Homo sapiens: one gene and its partner. The protein of the gene in region 1 purifies or fractionates together with the protein of each later gene. This does not show direct contact. Each region holds a gene or a part of one and is shown on either strand. Other genes may lie near its edges.

The links.
Region 2: the proteins of CDK17 (region 1) and CCNYL1 purify together in Homo sapiens (affinity purification with mass spectrometry; one large-scale study listed by BioGRID and IntAct). This does not show direct contact.

Annotation. Positions count from the first base shown.
Region 1 is NC_000012.12:96,292,434-96,296,258, forward strand, and holds part of CDK17 (cyclin-dependent kinase 17), read right to left. Parts: intron 2,690-3,825; coding exon 2,566-2,689; intron 1-2,565. UniProt on the Homo sapiens protein: May play a role in terminally differentiated neurons. Has a Ser/Thr-phosphorylating activity for histone H1.
Region 2 is NC_000002.12:207,739,033-207,742,857, forward strand, and holds part of CCNYL1 (cyclin-Y-like protein 1), read left to right. Parts: intron 1-1,622; coding exon 1,623-1,674; intron 1,675-3,190; coding exon 3,191-3,310; intron 3,311-3,825. UniProt on the Homo sapiens protein: Key regulator of Wnt signaling implicated in various biological processes including male fertility, embryonic neurogenesis and cortex development. Activates the cyclin-dependent kinase CDK16, and promotes sperm maturation.

The DNA of each region.
Region 1 (3,825 bases):
CATCTCTACTAAAAATACAAAAATTAGCTGGGCGTGGTGGGCACCCCTGTAATTGCAGCTATTTGGGAGGCTGAGGCACCAGAATCGCTTGAACCCAGAAGGCGAAGGTTGTAGTGAGCTGAGATTGCACCACTAGACTTCAGCCAGGGTGACAGAGCAAGACCCTGTCTCAAAACAAACAACCAAAAAACTACCATAATCATTTATGAAAAAAAATTATGAATTTAGTTATGGAAAACTGCATGGGTTTTTAAAAACTAAGTTCTCTAAGAGTATTCAAACTCTCAGAATGCGGAATACAAAAAATTCAAAGCTGCTCTACAAAGTTCCTTCAATATGAAAAAGTTTACTTTCTAGAAGCAAAAAGAGCATTTAATTTTACTTTCAATTCCCTTAAAACCAGATTAGCTAAAAAAAAAATAGATAAATAGCTACAATTAAATTACTGAGCATATAATAAATACAGAGTAATGGTGGCAGGTATATTAAGGGAACGCCTTTCAGTAGTTGCTTCTAAACTCATTGTTCTCAAGACCCATTTTATACTCTTGAAAATTATCAAAGACCTAAAGAGCTTTTATTTTTGTGGATATATTTACTGATATTTGCCACATTAGAAATTAAAACTTAGCAAATTTTAAAATATTATTTTCTCTTTAAAAACACCACCCTTTATATGCAGCATGTATGACATTTTTATGAAAAACATTTTTTTTATAAAAACAAAACAGTAAGAAGAATGGCCTTCTTTCACATTTTTGTAAATCTCTTTTAAGTCTTGTTTTTGTAGAGATGGGGTCTTGCTATGTTGCCCAGGCTGGTCTTAAACTCCCGGCTTCAAGTGATCCTCTCACCTCAGCCTCATAAGTGCTGGGATTACACCCCTGAGCCACTGTGTCTGGCCTAAAGTCTATTTCAATAGAAGACAACTGGATTCCACATCTGTTTTTGCATTCTGTGTGTCGTGATATGTTGCTTTGATACATATCACAATATGTATCAAAATAGATCAAATATACATATCACAACATACATATATGAAGGAAATCAAATCTCACACAGATATGAGGTTGAAAGAGGAGGGGCATTTTAATAGCCTTTTCTGATAAATGTGAATAGTCTTATTTGACACTACATCAGAACTAGAAAGTAAGTGGTCTCTTAAAAGCTATGTGTTAACAAAACCTATAACGATGAACTTCTCATGCTTTTGTTGCACTAAAATTCATTGACCTTGTACTTTAAATGGGTCTTTTATCCATGCATGATTCTGTAATATCATGCATTAGCCATTTGGAAAACAGTGGATCCCTGGGTTATACATTCCAAATGTTTATACACTTTTTCAGCATATTGAAAAATCGTGTTTGTTAACATCAACATCGATCTCATCAGAAAAGTCTCTAAGTATTGAAAAGCCATCAAACTCAAAGCAGATCCAAATTTCCAAACTCTAATTTTTGCTTGAAAACTTGAATTTTATTATTGGCAAGAAATACTGACAGTTCTTTTCCTTGAAATGATAGGCTTCCTTCATTCACTTTCAGGAAAATGTCTGCCAAACACCTAAGTCTGAATAACCACAGTTTGTCTGTCAGTCATTTAAGTAAAAATGGTGTCCCCTCAAATAACAGGGCTAGTTCAATGTGCACTCAAATAATCACATGAGCACTTTTCCCTGAGAAGTAACCACATTATTTCTGTGTGCAGCAAATGAGTTTTATGTACACTTCCCATTTTATCACATAAAATATTAAAAAGAAATGTAGTCAAGGATGGAAATTAAATATAATTAATAAATTTTATTGCTTCATCATGTAAGTGTAACTGACAGTTTTCCCTTTACGTAAGTGTAGTGGTAAAGAATACAATGACGGCCTGGGCATGGTGGCTCATGCCTGTAATCTCAGCACTTTGGGAGGCCGAGGCGAGTGGACCACCTGAGGTCAGGAGTTCGAGATCAGCCTGACCAACATGGTGGTCACGCTAAAAATACAAAATTAGCCAGGCATGGTGGCGCATGCCTGTAATCCCAGCTACTTGGGAGGCTGAGGCAGGAGAGTCACTTGAACCTGGGAGGCAGAGGTTGCAGTGAGTCAAGATCACACCACTGCACTCCAGCCTGGGCTTTAACAGCAAAATGCTGTCTTCAAAAAAAAAAAAAAAAAAAAAAAAAAAGATATATTTTGGTGCCACTACTTTGATGTATAGTTTTATGCATTATTATTTTGGGACCATCATTGCAAATATTAACACAGTGAAATAGGCAAATAACAGATGGTACAATTTTGGTAATATATTTACATTTAGAGGCCTCCTACAAGGGTCTCAGGAGCCCTAGGGGTCTTTGTCCACACCCAAGAACAGCCTGTGCATTTTAGAATTTGCTGCTAATAACCAACATAAATCACCAACCAAAGTTCTGTCAAATATCTTATTCTGTGGGCTACCGAGAAAATTTCCAAACCCACATAAAAGCAATGGCACATTATGACAGTGGTTGATCTTTTAACCATTACACTTTAGAACCTGGAAGTACTAATAAATATCTCATACATTCCATACCAAAATCTGCTAGCTTTAATTCTCCTTTCTCATTAATGAGGAGGTTCTGTGGTTTCAAGTCTCGATGCAATACCTTTCTTCTATGGCAATATGCCAAACCACGTAGAATTTGGTACAGAAACAGCTACAGAAACAAATAAATAAAAATTAGTCTTAAAGATGAGACATGCTTTAGTATAAGCATAAATGATGGTAAGCAGAAAAGCAGCTGGCCTAGAACATTGTAACAGGAAAAAGAAAGTAATTGCATACTTAAGTACAATGTCTTTTTCCTTTTATATATAGTGGCTTTCTGAATTTAATAGTTTATTATTCTATTTGAAGCATCTACCTATTTCTTTTAGTCTAACAGTATCTATGGAAATATTTTTTAAAAAGTAACTTCCTCCTAGCAGTAACAGTTGATTTACTGTGGAAAATGACTTAAAAAAAAAAACATATCCTCATAAACTTACAGGCCTACTAAGGTTTACATAGTTTAATTATAAAATTCTGGCAAAACAACCAACCAACCCCCCTCCCACCCATCTCTCCTTGAAAAAAAACAAAAACAAAAACTCTGATCTGGGGCAGTGTCTTTAAAATAAGGCACTGGAATTGGCGATTTTATGAAAAGTCTGAGGTATCAAAGAGAAAGCTGCTGCATAGCTCTGGCAAATTACTTACTATAAAACTAACCTAAACCAGCTTCTATCACCCATCTCTTGGGTACTTTACTTTCAGCACCTCCTACTTAGCCTTCAAAATCTACTGTGATTCACAAAGGGGCATTAGCACCGTAGTGTTCTGAATGACTCTGAAAAAAGTAATTCCTATAAGGCTAATGGTAGAGTTTTTGCTGTACATTTTGGTAGAAAGAGGGTTACGGAACACATAAGACCTTTGATTCTCTGGGGTTAACAAAAAGAACCTCAAGTACAGAGGATTCAAGAGTTTCCCCTCAGTTCATCTGTAGGTGAAAAACAGGGCATCCGAACACTGAGGCAGCCAAGGCAGCAGGTCAACGGTATGCCTGAATGAATTCTCTGTGCCAGAGTCTCTCCAGTCTACATAATTATGTTTTTAAAACTCTAAAATTACTATTTAAATGAATTCTTGTTACACTTTGTATTTTGAAAGTATAAAGGCCATTTAAACAAATAAATAATAAAACGCTTTCCAACTTAAGCTAATCATGTAAACCTGGCATTAAAGAAATAAACGTCTCAACATTTGTGAAATTATCATCAAGGACCTTGTTTTATTTTCAAATTATTGCCA
Region 2 (3,825 bases), on another chromosome or scaffold:
TTGACAGTGGCAAAGCTCACTTTTGTTAGTATCACCACCAATTGTATTAAAAAATCTTTAAGTATTGAGAAGCTGTTAAACTCACATAATAAGGTACAAGTTTCTCCAAATCCTGATTTTTAGTTTGAAAGCTTGAATTTTATCATTGCAACAAATAGTGTTATTTTCTTGAAGTGACAGGCTTCATTTTTTTAAAACTTTTTATTTATTTATCTTTTGAGACTGAGTCTCACTCTGTTGCCCAGGCTGGAGGGCACTGGTGCCATCTTCGCTCACTGTAACCTCTGCCTTCCGGGTTCAAGTGATTCTCCTGCCTCAGCCTCCTGAGTAGCCGGGACTGCGGGCGCCTGTCACCATGCCTGGCTAATTTTTGTATTAGTAGAGATGGGGTTTCACCCTGTTGGCCAGGCTGGTCTCGAACTCCTGACCTCAAGTGATCCACCCGCCTCAGCCTCCCAAGGTGCTGGGATTATAGGCATGAGCCACCACACCTGGCCACTTCTTTCATTTTTGAGAATGACATTTGTACTTTCAAGTAAAAATGATATTCTGTGAAAAAAAAATGGCTTGTTTAGCTCACAATTAAATCACAAGTGCTTTTCCTTAACACAACTCTACCTCGGTATGCAGAATTACTTTATGTGAACTTTCTGCTTACTCCAGAATAGTGAAAAGAAAGGTCAAGATTTAATAATACCATTAATTTTTACTGCTTCAGCAAGGATATTCATGAGTGAAGCAGGTGTTTTTCTTAAACTGCAAGAGGCAGTAAAGAGTAGCATAACTTCTAGTATAATTTGGTAGCACTGCCTTGATTCATGCTGAGAAGCCAGCAGTTTGCCCACTTTTGCTGTTATACACTCATTACAAATGTCATACAGTCAAAAAGCAAGCAATACCTTAGTATTCTTTTTTTTTAAATTATTTTTATTTCTAAATTTTCAATCAGCTTTCTCAGGTTGAATAAGTATTCTTAAAAGAACAGTTTTGACCTCAAGGACCTCTTGGAAAAGGATCTAGAGGGTCTCCAGAAGTCCACAGACCACACTTGGAGAACCACTGGTTTTATTAAATGAGCACAATGTATTAGTTTTATAAACTTGTAAAGATTATCAAAGCCTTGTCTCTTTTAAAATAAAAAGACAATAAGGTTTTTAACTCATCAAACTACTTAAACAAATACATGTCAAGAATGTAATACGGAGAACTAGAAAGGAAAAGCCTGGGAAATCTGAATTTCATTCACAGTCATTAAAGTTCTAAAGAGTTTATTGCCCACCACTACTGCTGTGTAAAACGTTCTTGAGTTCCAATGAGGGGTTAGAAGAGTGAAAATATACTTTATTACCATTGCCTGTTAGGGAGGGCCAATACTTAAAGGCAATTCTGAATCGTCATTGTAGAAAAGACCTCACAGTACAGAACCTCATATGCTGAGTAAAAAGAGGTCAGGAAATCCTCTGAAGGCTGGCATCCCGGAGAAGAATTTGTACAACTCTTTGCTTTGGTGAAGCAAACACCAAAGCAAACAGGAGGCATCTCCCGCCACCCCCAGCAGACATTTTACTCAGATATTAACAATTCCTGAATTAACTTCTTCAATGCATATTCTTATTTTATAGAGATGCAAATAGATCCCTGGATATTTTTGATGAGAGATCACATCCACTTACAGTAAGTGTCACTTTTTTTGAGGTAGTATTTTTCTCTCATAGAGTTGTGTTTATTTCATGCTGATATTTATAAATAGTCCTAACAAATATACATGATCTCTATGAAGATAATTAGAAAACAATTTAAATTTAAATCAATTAAAATGGTGTAAACATTTAAAAATTCACTTCCTCAGGTATATGATAGCCGCTCGTGGCTAATGACTATTGTCTTGGACAGTGAAGCCTTTGAGCCTTATGGTTACAGGAAACTAAAGATATTTTTTCAGGCCGGGCACGGTGGCTCATGCCTGTAATCTCAGCACTTTGGGAGGCCGAGGCAGGCGGATCACGAGGTCAGGAGATCAAGACCATCCTGGCTAACACAGTGAAACCCCGTCTCTACTAAAAATACAAAAAATTAGCCGGGCACGGTGGCAGGCGCCTGTAGTCCCAGCTACTTGGGAGGCTGAGGCAGGAGAATGGCGTGAACGTGGAAGGCGGAGCTTGCAGTGAGCCAAGATCGCTCCACTGCACTCCAGCCTGGGCGACAGTGAGACTCCATCTCAAAAAAAAAAAATTTTTCAAAGTGTATTTAAGAGAATCCTAACATATGATTAGTAAGACTTTCGAGCCTACAAGTAGTTTACATTTTGATAGAATTCTGTGGATAGAAAGTGGAAAGGAACATAAAAATTTTCTGAGTTGTGCCTGTATTTTTCCTTAATGATAAATGGTGATGAGTATTGAATCACTATGATATTTTAAGATCCAATTGTTTATATTTTAAAAACTAAAAGTCATGTCACTCAACCAGAATTATTTTAAGGGGTACATGGGCTCAAACGTCAACACTGCTGGTCTTAGGAGTACTTAGGCCAGCTGGGCATGGTGGCTCACCCCTGTAATCCCAGCTCTTTGGGAGGCCGAGGTGGGCAGATCATGAGGTCAGGAGTTTGAGACCAGCCTGGCCAGCATGGTGAAACCCTGCCTCTGTTAAAAATACAAAAAATTAGCCGGACATGTTGGTGCACGCCTGTAATCCCAGCTACTCAGGAGGCTGAGGCAGGAGAATCACTTGAACCTGGGAGGTGGAGGTTGCAGTGAGCCGAGATTGTGCCACTGCATTCCAGCCTGGGCGACAGAGCAAGACTGGGTCTCAAAAAAAAAAAAAAAAGTACTTAGGCCGGGCGTGGTGTCTCACGCGTGTAATCCCAGCACTTTGGGAGGCCAAGGCAGGTGGATTGCCTGAGGTCAGGAGTTTGAGACCAGCCTGACCAACATGTTGAAACCCCGTCTCTACTAAAAATACAAAAACTAGCTGGGCGTGGTGGCGGGTGCCTGTAATCCTAGCTACTCAGGAGGCTGAGGCAGGAGAATCACTTAAACCCGGGGGGTAGAGGTTGCAGTGAGCCAAGATCATGCCATTGCACTCCAGCCTGGGCAGTAAGAGTGAAACTCAGTCTCAAAAAAAAAAAAAAAAAGCTTAAAATTTTTTTCTTCAGTGGATACTAACATTGCATCTTTTCTTCTTTCAGCGAGAAAAAGTTCCAGAGGAATACTTTAAGCATGATCCTGAGCACAAATTTATTTACAGATTTGTTCGTACTCTTTTTAGTGCTGCACAGCTAACAGCTGAATGTGCAATAGTAACTTTGGTAAGATATTTCTCATTTATAAAGTGTCTTTAGAAATTAGTCTTGTACACAGGGTATGGTCCTATTTTTCAAATAAAAATAGGTTCCTGAAATTATCATCAGAACTTTAAGAGAAACCTATGAAAGGAACATAAATACGTACATTCGCGTTTAATCATCATTATGGTTGAACATGTTTCCATTGCTTTTCTCATCACAGAACAGTTGCTACAAAAGGCAGCCGGGGAGATTTCTGGTTTCTCCCCCTACCCATCAATGCACATGTACACATTCAGTGTGTACACATACAAGGCATGGTGGCAGGGCTGGGGGTGATGGGGAGTGGTAACAAAACCATGTGGTTCAGAGCCAGATACTGATTCCAGTGTAGGTCTAAGCCAAGTCCCAGGCTCTATTCCCCAGGTATTTCCGATATGTGTGGTGATTGAGAACTATTGCCCTAAATTCTTTGTTCCTTGGATGATGGGTTTTAATCATCTCTGCCTACCTCTTGTGCCTGCTCGTGATGTTGCCCA